4 linked regions of the Homo sapiens genome follow. The gene in region 4 interacts genetically with the main gene of each other region. Each region holds a gene or a part of one and is shown on either strand. Other genes may lie near its edges.

Evidence for each region.
Region 1: changes in NF1 (region 4) and C20orf173 together harm fitness more than expected from each alone (negative genetic interaction), as found in Homo sapiens cells (one large-scale study listed by BioGRID).
Region 2: changes in NF1 (region 4) and PRKRA together harm fitness more than expected from each alone (negative genetic interaction), as found in Homo sapiens cells (one large-scale study listed by BioGRID).
Region 3: changes in NF1 (region 4) and COPG1 together harm fitness more than expected from each alone (negative genetic interaction), as found in Homo sapiens cells (one large-scale study listed by BioGRID).

What each region holds. Positions count from the first base shown.
Region 1 is NC_000020.11:35,526,853-35,530,848, forward strand, and holds C20orf173 (uncharacterized protein C20orf173 precursor), read right to left. Parts: upstream 2,801-3,996; 5' UTR 2,707-2,800; intron 2,589-2,706; exon of another isoform or gene 2,573-2,588; 5' UTR 2,522-2,572; coding exon 2,213-2,521; intron 2,028-2,212; coding exon 1,849-2,027; intron 1,693-1,848; coding exon 1,599-1,692; intron 1,433-1,598; coding exon 1,406-1,432; 3' UTR 1,381-1,405; intron 399-1,380; coding exon of another isoform or gene 369-398; 3' UTR 127-368; downstream 1-126.
Region 2 is NC_000002.12:178,434,176-178,437,675, forward strand, and holds part of PRKRA (interferon-inducible double-stranded RNA-dependent protein kinase activator A), read right to left. Parts: intron 2,145-3,500; coding exon 1,970-2,144; intron 1-1,969. UniProt on the Homo sapiens protein: Activates EIF2AK2/PKR in the absence of double-stranded RNA (dsRNA), leading to phosphorylation of EIF2S1/EFI2-alpha and inhibition of translation and induction of apoptosis.
Region 3 is NC_000003.12:129,259,606-129,263,105, reverse strand, and holds part of COPG1 (coatomer subunit gamma-1), read right to left. Parts: intron 2,774-3,500; coding exon 2,706-2,773; intron 2,488-2,705; coding exon 2,299-2,487; intron 1-2,298. UniProt on the Homo sapiens protein: The coatomer is a cytosolic protein complex that binds to dilysine motifs and reversibly associates with Golgi non-clathrin-coated vesicles, which further mediate biosynthetic protein transport from the ER, via the Golgi up to the trans Golgi network.
Region 4 is NC_000017.11:31,223,977-31,227,476, reverse strand, and holds part of NF1 (neurofibromin), read right to left. Parts: intron 2,383-3,500; coding exon 2,227-2,382; intron 1,043-2,226; coding exon 793-1,042; intron 260-792; coding exon 186-259; intron 1-185. UniProt on the Homo sapiens protein: Stimulates the GTPase activity of Ras. NF1 shows greater affinity for Ras GAP, but lower specific activity. May be a regulator of Ras activity.

The DNA of each region.
Region 1 (3,996 bases), on a different chromosome or scaffold from region 4:
TTGAATCTAAACTTATACCTCCTACATGATCCAGGGCACTAGGCAAAGAAATCAACTCAAATATTGCCCCTGAGATCTGGAAGGCACCTCTGGCCCATCCCTCCCAGACACTGTGGTTACAGGTAAGACAATCAGGCCAGGATTTTATTCAGTACCAGACTGATCTTACAATTTCCTCCTGCCCTTTACCCACCCAGAAATAGGATTTGTATGGACTCAGCTAGGCTGAGCTTGTGTGAATAGTGAGCTTGTCCACACGCTAGCTGATGGATGACTTCGATTTCTGCTCCTGCACTAGACGTGGGCAGTATTTCCTTGGAGCCCTTGGTCTGATTATCCTCCTTCCAGTGATAGAAACACTTTCCTTGCTATTCTGATCCAAATCCAAAGAGGGTGACCTAGTGGATAAGAGAGGGACATGTGCGTCAGCAGGCAGACTCCTGTCCTCACCCCTGCCTCCCTTCACTCAGCATCTAGGATGACAGGTTGTCCCTGGGAGCTGGGAGGAGACTGGAGCTCACCTCCAGGAAACAGACTCTGGACACTCTCCTAGAGTCACTGAGGATCCCAAAAAAGAGAATGTCAACTCACTTTTCCTCATGGTATTGGAGGAAGAGAGGGGAACCCCCAGGACGTAAGAGAAGGGCATTCCAGGCAAACGGAATGGTGCGAGAGAAGGCATGAGGCAGCTCATGTGTCTGGGGAATTCTAAGAGCCCATTATGGGAGCCTGGGAGACAGGAGGCAAGGGGAGGAGTCAGAACATGTATAGTCTTTTTTTTTTCTGAGATGGAGTCTCGCTCTGTCACCAGGCTGGAGTGCAGTGGCGCAATCTCGGCTAACTGCAACCTCTGCCTCCCGGGTTCAAGCGATTCTTCTACCTCAGCCTCCCGAGTAGCTGGGACTACAGGCATGCCTGGCTATTTTTTGCATTTTTAGTAGAGATGAGGCTACCACCATGCCTGGCTATTTTTTGTATTTTTAGTAGAGATGGAGTTTGACCATATTGGCCAGGCTGGTCTCGAACTCCTGACCTCATGATCCACCCGCCTCAGCCTCCCAAAGTGTTGGGATACAGGCATGAGCCACCACGCTTGGCCTACATGTAGAGTCTTGAAAGCCAGGCAGAAAACTTTAGACTCCATGCTGAAGGCATTGAGGAGCAGGAATTTTAAGAGAAGAAGATACAAGAATCTTTCCTGCCGGGGCACAGTTGTGCAAGACACAGAACAAAGCCTTGGGCCCCAGGGATGACCCTGACCCTGGTAAGACAGCCAGTTGTCCTGGTTGCACCTGGGGAGGAAGGGGGAGGGAACTGACCTGGGGCCCTTCCCACAGCAACCCACAGCCACATCCTACCCCTTTTCCTATTCCCCCTCACCGTGTCTTTGCTATCTTCCACTCCACTAGGGAACCAGACCATCTTCCAAAATCTGAGAAAGAATTGGAGGTGGGGGAGTTTGGGCCACAAGACCTGGGAAAGTCCTGCAAGTGTCCCCAGTAAGCCAATAGAAGGTCTTCCCAGAGCCCCTGCTGTTACTCCCTGCAGTGACCTCCCCTCACCCCCACACAGAGAATGTCTGGGGACACCTCCATCACCTTATCACTTAGAGCATCTGAAGTCCACACCAGGTCAGAGAGCTTCCGCAGTAGCATCTCCAGCTGCATCCAGGAGCCCTGGTCGCTGGCATTCCTGGGATAGATGAAGCATTGTGTGTGGTTTGGTTCCCCACGTCCATCTCAAAGCCCTGGACTTGGGGCCTGCTTCATCTTGGGAAGGGGAGCAGAAACTGATGGAACTGTGGGGCAGGCCTGGCCTTCCTGCTCCCGCCCTCTCCCCAGCACCCACCTGAAAACCACGGGGTATTGGTCGATGTCGTTGCCAAGGCTGGAGCCCTGCGGGATCTGTGGGCGCCCCAACAGCACACAAGTCCCACAATAGAAATCAAAATGGCTCACCGAGAGCCTGGGAATCCCTTTAAACAGCTTCCTCCACAATTTCCCAAGCTCGCTCCCTGAGTTCATGCCCTGGAAACAGCAAGAGGGAGATTGGGGGCTGGGCCCAGGGGAGAGAAAACAGAGCTGGGTGGGTGAGATCTCCATCCAGAGGCTGTGAAGACAGGGCCAAGGGCAGGGATTTGGGCGGAAAGTGGGAGATGGGTGAGGCCCGGAAAGCATGGGGGATATGGCCGGGCCCAGTGTTGACCACTGACCAACCACCAGAGCACAGTGTCAGAGGTCATAGACTCTCTTGTCCTCATCAGGTACCCCATAGTCTTCCTGGAGCACGCATCAAGCCAGTTCCATTCGTCGGCTGTGTGGTGGCAGGAGGAGCAGTTGAGGGTCTCAGAAGGGCAGCCACACTTCCCGGAACTGAACCAAGGGCAGTCGCAATGCTGTGGTACCAAGTACATTCGTTTTTCCTGGGGTGCTGATTCAGGTGTCAGATCCAGATAGGGGGTCATCAGCCAGAGGATGAGCACCCAAAAGACCCACAGGACAAAAATCTGCCAGCGCTTCATGTCTGGCCCAGGCGGTGGCTCCCGTGGTGGGCCGTAGACTGGCTTCTCTACCTGTAAGGATGAGGGGCTGAGGCCACAGACAGCACCAGCTTCCCTCTGTCCTGTCGGCCTCCACAACTCCCCATCCCACCACCTTCCACCTCCTTCCAACCCCTCCTCTCCTGCCTCACTATCCATTTGCTCACCCTCAAAACGGTCTCTGACTGGGCATGGGGTGGAAGAGGCCAGGGCAGAGAGACAGCATGTGGCTAGTCCTGAGAGGGGAAGGAATACCTCAGTGGGGGCCTTGCTGTCATCCCAGTTATATCATAGATCTCATCACAAAGTACACATTGTGACCTCCCTCCTTTAGCCTGCCTGAAAAAAGCCACCACCCTACCCTTTCTCTGACACCGAAATGACCTCCACTGGATGTAAGATTCATGAGGACAGGGGCTGACCTAGTCTCTCTTCTTCACCTCTGCAGCTCTAAGACTTAGAATCATTTAATAAATATTTATGGGATAAATAAACAGGGGTTGAGAGGGAACTTTTTTTTTTTTTTTTGAGATGGAGTTTTTGCTCTGTTGTCCAGGCTGGAGTGCAGTGGCATGATCTTGGCTCACTGCAACTTCCGCCTGCCTGGTTCAAGCGATTCTCATGCCTCAGCCTCCCAAGTAGCTGGGACTACAGGCATGCGCCACCACGCCTGGCTAATTTTTATATTTTTAGTGGAGACAGGGTTTCGCCATATTGGCCAGGCTGGTCTCAAACTCCTGACCTCAAGTGATCCGCCCACCTCAGCCTCCCAAAGTGCTGGAATTACAGGCGTGAACCACCATGCCCAGCCGGGAACTTTATTTTTAAATTATTATTATTATTATTATTATTATTATTATTATTATTATTATTTTGAGACGGAGTTTCACTCTTGTCGCCCCAGCTGGAGTGCAGAGGCACGATCTCGGCTCACTGCACCCTCTACCTCCCGGGTTTAAGTGATTCTCTTGCCTCGGTTTCCCAAGTAGCTGGGATTACAGGTGCCCGCCACCACGCCTGGCTAATTTTTTTGTATTTTTAGTAGAGACGGGGTTTCCCCATGTTGGTCAGACTGATCTCGAACTTCTGACCTCAGGTGATCCGCCCGCCTTGGCCTCCCAAAGTGTTGGGATTACAGGCATGAGCCACTGCACCCCGCCCCAGCCTGGAACTTTAAATATACTTGTGTGTGATGCCCTCTCTGGAGTTGTGTGACATCAACTCAATCCTCTCTTGTAGTCTCTAGACCCCATATCCAACAGCCTACTGAATTGCCACTTAGATGGCTCAGAGACATCTCACCTGAATAAGCCTGAGACTGAACCCAGGATTTTCCCTGTAAACCAACCCTTCCCAAAACTTCTCTGTCTCTTTTGTTTTGTTTGAGACAGAGTCTTGCTCTGTCACCCAGGCTGGAGTGCAGTGGCGCAATCTCAGCTCACTGCAACTTCTGCCTC
Region 2 (3,500 bases), on a different chromosome or scaffold from region 4:
TCTCGGTTCACTGCAACCTCTGCCTCCCGGGTTCAAGTGATTCTCCCACCTGAGCCTCCCGAGTAGCTGGGATTACAGGTGCACGCCACCTTGTCTGGCTAATTTTTGTATTTTTAGTAGAGACAGGGTTTCACCGTGTTGGTCAGGCTGGTCTCAAACGCCTGACCTCAGGTGATCTGCCCGACTTGGCCTCCCAAAGTGCTGGGATTACAGGTGTGAGCCACCGCACCTGGCCTCCAGCCTCTTTTCTTTTTTTTTTTTGAGACAAGTCTAACTCTGTCACCCAGGCTGGAGAGCAGCGGCATGATCATGGCTCACTGCTGCCTCAACCTCAGAGGCTCAAGTCATTGTCCCCACCTCAGCCTCCCTAGTAGACTGGACTACAGGCATGTGCCACCACACCCAGCTAATTTTTCATCAGCCACCTTTTCTAACCATCTGTCTGCACTGACTTCCCAGGTTCTGCATCATTATTGGTTTACTGAGACAATGCACTTCACCCGTCCTTCAATCCCAAAGTAGCACAGAATATCAGGAGTTCTTTGAGCCCCTAAGTGCCCTACTTTCCCAGGGTCAGGGGACCCTGACAAGCAAGGTCCCCACATCTTTCTGTGGTTGGATAGGGATATAAAATTTCTCACACATGTTAAATCAAGATACTTTGGCCAGGCACGGTGGCTCACACCTGTAATCCCAGCACTTTGGGAGGCTGAGGTGTACAGATCACTTGAGGTCAGGAGTTTGAGACAAGCCTGGTCAACATGGTGAAACTCCCATCTCTACTAAAAAAAAAAAAACTTTGGGAGGCCGAGGTGGGTGGATCATGAGGTCAGGAGTTTGAGACCAGCCTGGCCAACATGGTGAAACCCCGTCTCTACTAAAAATGCAAAAATTAGGTGGGTGTGGTGGCACACAGCAGTAGTCCCAGCTACTCAGGAGGCTGAGGCAGGAGAATTGCTTGAACCTGGGAGGCAGAGGTTACAGTGAGCTGAGATCATGCCACCGCACTCCAACCAGGGCAACAGATCAAGACTCCATCTTGGGGAAAAAAAAAAAAATTAGCCAGGCTTGGTGGTGGATGCCTGTATTCCCAGCTTCTTGGGAGACTGAAGCAGGAGGATCGCTTGAACCCAGGAGGCAGAGGTTGCAGTGAGTTGAGATTGTGCCACTGTACTCCAGCCTGGGCAACAGAAACAATACTCCGTCTCAAAAAAAAAAAAAAAAAAAAAAAATCAAGACACCAAACACACACAACTAATTAGCTCTATAAATTGAATTAAAAGAAAATCCATACTGACTTGCTTTCCCATCTGTCCATATTTGTCTATCCAAATGATTAAGGGCTAGAGAAAATACAGATGATGATGGCTGAGATGGGATAAAACTATAAATTGACTTGGTTCCATTTACCTCCCAGAATCAGCATACAGTGACAAAGTAGAGAGAAAAGGTCTGGGCACCACAAACTTGTACTTGTGCTAGAAATGTAGGTGCCTTTTCATTTGCCCAGCAGGGCTAGTTTAACAGCCAGGGTATCTTCTGGGACTCTTCCCCAAATCTTGCTCTACCGCTGACTAGCTATGTGATCTTGGGCAAGTTTCTCAACCTTTCTGTGCCTTTCTTCCTTTACTTATAAATAAGGATAACAGAATTTGCTTCATAGAGTTAGTCTGAGGATTCAGTAAGTAGATACGTGTAATCTTAGAACAGTGTCTGGCACACAGTAAAACTCTATCTTTGCTATTGTTGTTTTTGTTATAACTGTATAGATGTTAGCTATTATTACTATCCACAAGAATGGGACATATCAATTATATATATTACTGGCCTAGTAATTATATATACTTAGAATCCCTGATCAATAAAATAAATTGTAATAGAAATTTTTATTCCTCAAACACATTTTTGTTCCTCAAACACATTTTTAAATAAACATGTCTTGGGAAAGCCAAAGAAAAAAAAATCATACCTATATCCAAATATGTTATATTAAAACCTTGTTCCTTGGCAATTTCACTAAGCAGCTGGATGTAATCTGTATTTGGAATACTAAGGAGGCTTCTTTTCAGTAAGTTGATCTTTTCACCAGGAGAATTCCTCAAGGAATGCCAAGTACATCCTAAAGAATGTCCTACTACATTTGTCTGAAAAACAGAGATGAAGATTTAGACTCTTGACTAGGACTGGGTTCCAACACCCGTACCAGTATCATTAAAAGTACTTATTAAGCACTCACATTTAATATGTTATAAAGCATGTTTAAATGGATAACATTTGGTTAATTTTCCAATTTAAACAAGACAACATTAAAAAGTACACATTTAACAATACTATATGTTTTTAAGAAGCACTTGCAATAATATACTGAAAGCATTTTGTATTTTGTATAGTACAAATGTTTCTCAGTCAAGTTTTCTGATGGTCACATTAAGAGGTACAAGATATCTGGAAGCACCATAAGTAAATCCACAAATAATTAAATCTGCCTAATGGAGCAATTTGCAGATTAAAATATAGAACAATTTTCATATCTTTGGTTTTTTTTGTATTAAATACCAATCACTATAACTGACAGCTATCAAACAGGAAAAAAAACAGAAAAAAAAACTAAAAAAAACATGAAATGTGCGCGTTGGGTTTGAGGAACAAGTCATTCAAATAAATGACAGGATGTCAAAAAGTTCTTATCAGACTTCTATCCCAGAACCCAACTGAGTATTTTTTTCCTTTTTCTTTCTGCTTTTCCTCTTTCCTTTATCCTCCCCTATATCCTTCCCTTTTCATCTCTGTCCTTAGAATGCCTTATATTTCCATATTAGTTTATGGTTCTCAAATTGCTTTCATATGCCATTAATAAAAACAACTACTTTCTGAAGTAAGTAGGGTTACTACTCTTAATATTGTTTTATTAATGAGCACGACAGAGGGGAGGCAATTTCCAAAAGATTTTAGAGATGGCATGATATGGAATTAAGTAATTTATTAGATTTACCAAATAAAAATTTACATTATAGAAACTTTAAAATACTGTTTTTAAATAAAGAACACTATTTACATGGTTAAAAATATACATGCACTAAGAACAAATATATAATGAAGAGTACAGTCTCTTTTCCTTACCACCCATTCCCTGAAGACCTCTGTTCTATTTCTTAGACATACTGTTAAACATTTTTCAGTATCTTCCCATAAATGTTCTATGCATATGCAAGCACACACAATCTTTTAAAGCAAATGATAACTTACTCCTCTACATCTTGTTCATTTTTCTTTTATCAGTGCACATATATGCACTGTATTTACCTTACGGATCTCCAACTGTGAGCTTTAGGTTGTTTCTAGTTTCTTGCTTTTACTAGCAATAAACACTCTTTTGCACTTGAATGAGTTTCTCTGTAGAATTATTTCTAGAAGTGGAACTGCTAAGTCAAAGAACATGTACACTTTTAATTTTGATAAATACTTCCAAACTGATTTCTGAACCAATTTATACTCCTACC
Region 3 (3,500 bases), on a different chromosome or scaffold from region 4:
TCCTCTCCTTCTGAATTACTCCAACAGTCTCTTTACCCAGTCACCCCTCCACTCTGCTCCAGAAGGACTCTTTTTTTTTTTTTTTTTTTTTGAGACGGAGTCTCGCTCTGTCTGGAGTGCAGTGGCACGATCTCGGCTTACTGCAACCTCCACCTCCAGGCCAGGTCAAGCGACTCTCCTACCTCAGCCTCCGGAGTGGCTGGGACTACAGGTGTGAGCCACTACACCAGCTAATTTTTTAATTTTTTTAGTAGAGACAGGGTTTCACCATGTTGGCCAGGCTGATCTCAAACTGCTGATCTCAAGTGATCTGCCGACCTCAGCCTCCCAAGTGCTGTGATTACAGGCATAAGCCACCGCGCCCAGCCAATTTTTTTTTTTTTCAGACAAGGTCTCACTCTGTCACCCAGGCTGGAGTGCAGTGGCATGATCATGGCTCACTGCAGCCTCGAACTCCTGGGTTCAAGTGATCCTCACACCTCAGCCTCCAGAGTAGCTGGGACTACAGGTGCGCATCACCACACATGGCTAATTTTTAAAAAAATTTTCTGTAGGCCGAGTGCGGTGGCTCACGTCTGTAATCCCAGCACTTTGGGAGGCCAAGGCGGGTTGATCATGAGGTCAGGAGATCGAGACCATCCTGGCTAACATGGTGAAACACCGTCTCTACTAAAAAATACAAAAAATTAGCTGGGCATGGTGGCGGGTGCCTCTAGTCTCAGCTACTCAGGAGGCTGAGGCAGAAGAATGGCGTGAACCCAGGAGGCGGAGCTTGCAGTGAGCTGAGGTCACACCACTGCACTCCAGCCTGAGCAACAGAGCGAGACTCCAACTCAAAAAAAAAAAAAAAAATTTGTAGAGATGAGGTCTTGCTACATTGCCCAGACTGGTCTCAAAATTCAGGCCTCAAGTGATCCTCCCTCCTTGGCCTCCCAAAGCACTGAGACTACAAGCATGAGCCACCGTGCCCAGACCCAGAAGGATCTAATATGCAAATCTCACTGTGTCATTTCAGCCTGCAAAGCATTCTTGTAACCCACAGGCAGAGTAGACTGCTGCCTACTTTGCATAATCCACACTATAGAATTTACCACAATATATTATTCATATTATTGTTTGCTCTGATTAAAACTCTCCGGTGACATACTTCATTGTTCTATCAATTAACAATTGTGAAATAACAGAATTACAGAAATTGAGAACAAATTAATGGCTGCCAGGGGTTAGGGAATAGAGAGGTAGGAATGGGCCTGACTATGAAGAGGTAACAAGAGTCTTGTGGAGATGGATAGTTGAGTGTCTTCACTGTGGTGGCAATTTTGAAAGTCTCCACATGACATCTTGCATAGAACTTCACATATATACACACAGGAGTTGCCTGTGTAGCTGGTGAAATCTGAATGAGCTCTATGGGTCATGCCAGTGTCACTTTCCTGGTTGACATTGTCCTGTGCTAGTGTAGGATGCTGGCACTGTAGGAGAGGGTTGATGGAGGGGTGCATAGGACTTCTCAGTATATTTCTTTGTAACTTCCTATGAATTATTTCAAAATATAAGCTCAAAAAATATTCACATCCTTCCTCCTGCCCCAAAAGAACACCTTTCCAATGTCTTCCTTGCAATTAAAACTCTTTACCTGACCATGGGCCTTACATGATTGAGCCCTGTCTATTCTGACTTTGTCACCTGCACTGGCCCCACAGCTCTTCCACCCACTGGCCTTCTCTCTCCTTGACTTGCTCCTGCCTTTCCTCCTGGTTCTTTGCACTGATTCAGGTTTGAGCTCAAATGTCACCCTCCAGAAGGGCCTTCCCAGACTGTGCTCTTCCTAGGATCATCCCTGCTGTATTTCTACACTCTTGACTGCAGTACCCATGCCTGAGATGATCTCGTCTACTCCTTTCTTTACCTGTTTACTGTTCCTCTCCCATCCCTAGAAAGGAAGCTCCAGGAGGGCAGTCACCTGCTTTGTTCACTGCTATGTTCCCCTTTTGTCACTCTACATAGCAGACAGCAAGTGCTCAAGAAATACTTGGACAACAAATCAATGAACCCTTAACTGGCCTGGAAACTACTGTTCTTTCAGTACAAGGGGACGATATGGATGGAGGCCTGGAGGCAGGACTACGCACATTTCTCGGAAGGCCAAGTCTCTGCAGAGCAAACTGCTGGCCTCCTCTGAGTCCTCAAGGCTGACCAGCCCCTCAGGTCAGTCCTGGCAGGAAGGCTGTGGCCACAGAGAGCAGGGACAGAGCTCCTTCCTCTGGGGGCCGTGGGTGTCCTGGGGGTAGCAGGTACCTTGAATTCATCCGAGATTTCTGACATGAAGGAGGAGATCTGCTTCATGAGGCGGTCGATGCTGCTCTCGCTGCCCGTCTTAAGGAGGGTGGTGATGGCCAGCGTGGCAATGCTGCGGTTTGAATCTGTGACCAGGTTCTCCAGATCCAGATTACAAGCTGTCACAGCTGACGGATGCTTCATGGCAACCTGTTTTGGGAGGACAGTGACAGAGAGGGCAGGAACCCAATGCTGTCACTACATTTGATGGTTTGGCCCAGTCAGAAGTCCTTTGGATGAGATCATCTCACCATCTAGAAGAAACTAACTGTGACCAGGGCTATTATCCTTCCCAGCCAGGTCAGAGGCTAGGACACACCTCCAGTTGGATCAGACAGCTTCCTCCAACCCCCAAGCTGGACTCTTACCTTATTGAGGGTACGAACAGCAGCATAGCGGAGAGCAGCCTTGGGTGAGCTGCAGAAAAGCTGGAGCACTGTGGGGAGATGGATGCCACATGTCAGGTTGCCTTCACTGCTGGGCAGCTGGGAAAACCGGGGGCTACTGTTCTGACTCAAACCCTCTGCTCAGCTCATTTCCCTGCTGACACCCCCATCCCAACCCAAGACACAGAGCTCCCCTCACCCTGCGCACCTGAGCCATGGACAGAGGCCATAATGTCTGTGAGCACCCAGGGGTTCCAGTGAGGGCTGTTATTCACTGGGCATCTGCTGTGTGCCAGGTGCTGTGCTATACAGTGGACATGCCTCACTTCTATAGCTTGCAGCCACCACTAGCCCACTTTACAGATAAGGAGACTGAGGCACAAAGGGGAAAGCAAACAAACTTTAGGTTGGCAGCCAGTAAGTGGCAGAACCAAGATTAAATTCCAAGACTGCCTGCACCTGCAGCCTAAGCCCTTAACCTCTGTGAAGTAATATTCCACTCCTCTCTCCTACTGTGTCTACAGGATCCAACAGAACTTCCCCCTTGGCACCAAGTGCTGAAGAACAAAGTCCTCTCTTAAACAAATGGTTTATTTCCTTTAACTAGATGAGAGCCATTCGGGTACCATATCCCTCCCTTGCCCTGGCTGCCCGGAAGCTCAGAGCTAAATTTGGCACTCAATCATAGGAGCGAAGATGACTACTGTTTTCTGGAATATCTATGTTCCTTTCTTCATAACTTGGCTTTTATTCTCTAATACTCAAAAAAAATTTTTC
Region 4 (3,500 bases):
AAACATCAATCAGCTACAGCCAAGTTTCAAACTTGATGTATATTAAATACTCAGATATTATACTTGTAATATGCACGTATCTTGGATTTACTTCAAAAGCTATTCCTGATCACACATATGTAACAAGAGGCTTCCAAATTGAGGGTGGGCGCCTGGGAGGGGTGTTTCTGTTGCTAAGGGCATACCTCAGTGTTTCCTGCAGTGGGATGCTCAATGCGCCTCAGCAGTGCCATCACTCTTTTCTGAAGTGCTGCTCTTCCTAAGCAAATACAACAGCAAATCAAGTTACTGCACTTAGAGCCCTGCCTGCCAATGGAGAACCTGATAAGCTCCACCCAAAAGGAGTAGGAAGAGCAGAGCAAATGCTTCAAATGATAAAGCCAAAAACTTCCTTTCACTAACCTCACAGGAAAGGTACTTATCTTGGACTCTACAATGTCCACAGAATAAAATAGCTATTCCCACCTACAATTTACTCAAAACATACGCCAATGTTTGTAAAACTTCACTATCTACAACTTAGGCAGAGTAAATTACATAATCATAACTGATAGTAACATCTACTGCCAGTTATTTTTAAAATGTATAGCATATTAACAACTCAGTGGAAGACTAACAATTTATTTCAAATGCTTTTTATTTTCATCTTACTTTGTTCAGAAAAGGATTTCAAGTAAGCTACTTGAATTTCCCCTGTAAACTTACAAAGTAGTGACCTTAAATACATTCTCAAAATCAGATGCCATGTGCTTTGAGGCAGACTGAGTAAAAAAAACCACTATTCACATTTACCTGTTGACATCATATTGCTGACAGAGGCAAACTCCATGAATGTGTTATAGTTGGGCAAGAGGTTATGCACTGACACTTCATCCACCCCACACCGGATATCTGCTTCCTCACAGAGGTGGCGGAAACAGGACATGGCAACCAGAACAGCTTCAGTGTCAGGGTTCCACAGAAACATGTACAGGGCCACTTCTAGTTTGGTCTGGGCTTGTCGGCAAATCGGGGGGGTTCCGCTGCATCCTGCTGCACTATCCTGAGAGTCAAGGGTGGAAGACATATATTTGCAACTTGGGTAATTTTATGTATAAAATCTAACAATGCAATAAACTGTGTGTGTGTGTGTGTGTGTGTGTGTGTGTGTGTGTGTGTCTCCGCATACAATAACTCACAAGAGCTTTTTCCTTTAATCATTATAGGAATTTTTCAAACCCCAAAATATCTTGTCCAAATGAGAAATGAGATTATCTGGACCAACATAATGCTACCATCTGTTCAATTTCAAATCAAATAGATATTATCCTATTCCAGATTCCAGAAATGTAAACTGATTCTAACATGGACAGGTAAACACCATAACGTAAATCTACTGCAGTAACAATATAATGTACCTCCCAGTCAATTAGAAATGACAAAAAAAGAGGAAGTAACAGGAAATTCTATCTACTTGCTATAGGGAAGTAATAAAATAAGTACACTGCAGCACTCATTGAAACAAGGGCATAAACAAGAACTAAATATTGCTGTAGAAGATACATTTGATTCTGAATTACTTATTCTCCAAACACGAAATGGAGAAAATAATTGATAAAATAAATGCAAATTCTACAAGTAAAACAGACATTAGTAAATATCATACTGCTTAGGTGTTTCTTCCTTAACAAGGTTGCATTAAAAATTAGGAATGAAAAAAGTTTTGGTTTGGAAAATAAACTCTTCTGTAATGATGTGATATTTTCACTTGAAATATGATTTATATTTAAAAGAAATTATACACACAAACACAAATCACAGAAACACTTATCTTTAACATGAAGCAAAATACTTTGTTTTTATCCCTGTAAATCTGTACCTTTGTTAGCCGGTACGAATTCTATACTTCTGTGGTATGAATGGGTTTTTTATGGAGTGGAGGTTTATAATAATTATAATTATCAGATATAGCTTGTAAGTGTCAAGTGCTATTTACACATCCTTTTATTTAACCCTCTTTAACAACTCTGGGGCAGGAACTATTACTGTCCCCATTTTAAAGTTGAGGAACTGAGGAACAAGGATGTTAAGAACTTGCCCAAAGTTCCACAAAGAGCAGTAATAGAACTAGATTCTAAGCAGTTTTTCACTATTACACTATATTACCTAGATGAAATTTACCAAATTTCATTCAGAAAACAAACAGAGCACATAAAATGATACAGAAAAAGTACAGAAGAAGCTGACCATAGAGGAGTTCCCTTTTCCCTTCCGGAGAGAGGCTCCAGGAGTACGTAGTAATTCTTCATGATCCATGGACATTTGACTGGTATTTCCACTAGAAGGAATATCACATCCTACCCCGTAAAAAAGGAGAAAGTGACAGGAACTTCTATCTGCCTGCTAGAAAAAAATAAATAAATAAGCTTTACTGAAGCACTGACAACCAAGAGGAATAAACACTTATTTGAGTTGTCTTCCTGTTTGAGACTCTCCTAAAAAACCTCTCCTCTCAATCTCTATGCCCCAACTTGAAGGAGATTCACTAGAAACCCATTAGAACAAACAAGGTTTACTTAATTCTTTAAAATTTCTTTCAGTTTCCCATTCTCTAAATCATCAGAAACAGTAGATTCTACAAATATAAATTAAGTCTGACATAAACATGAGTAAAACATCAACAATATAAATCTACTGTATGAAAACTATAATTTGATCTCAATGACAAAGATTTTTTTTCCATAAGATTTTATACTGTGCCATGTTGGGATAACCAGAAATTGGCTCTTGAGATTAAGTTCTTCTGGACCAGTAATTAACTCTGGTATGTATATACACCAAGTATGTCACAAGAGTGACTATGCCTACCAGGGCACTATGAATTCATTACTGGATTCCTCATACTCACATTCTGGAGATTATACCATAGGCGAGGCCATGAAAGTCTGAAGTCTAATCTCTTTCTGTATCTTTGGAATAATGCCAAATTCCACTACATTAACATATCAAATAAGTCACATGTGAATAAACCCACTTCACCATTAGTCTATTTCTAAAGAGACAATTTATTAATAACAAGCTGTAAATACTGAAAAGGATATGAGTTTCATACATTTAAGGTCTTTCACAGCTATGCTTCTAGTACCAGATAAAAACTCATTAAATCAAGTACTCCGAAAACTAGGCCATAACAGAATTCCTAAATTGATTAATTACAGAAACTATATGTTAAAAGAAATTTAAGGCTCTTCTCTATCTTCCACAACCTCACCATGTTTCAATAGTTCAGAATCAAAACATTTCACTCCACCCCAATGAAAAAGTCTCCTGATATTTTCAAGAGGTGAAACCCTTATTGGAGGAATCGAAATAAATCTAGATTGAGGACCCTCAACTGTTTCCCTTTTGCTTCTTGATAGATAATTCTCTGGACTAGTCTAGCCATGAGATCTAGGTCTTTACGATTTCTCAGAGCTATGATTCTAGAACTGGACAAAAACCCATTAAATCAAGTACTCCCA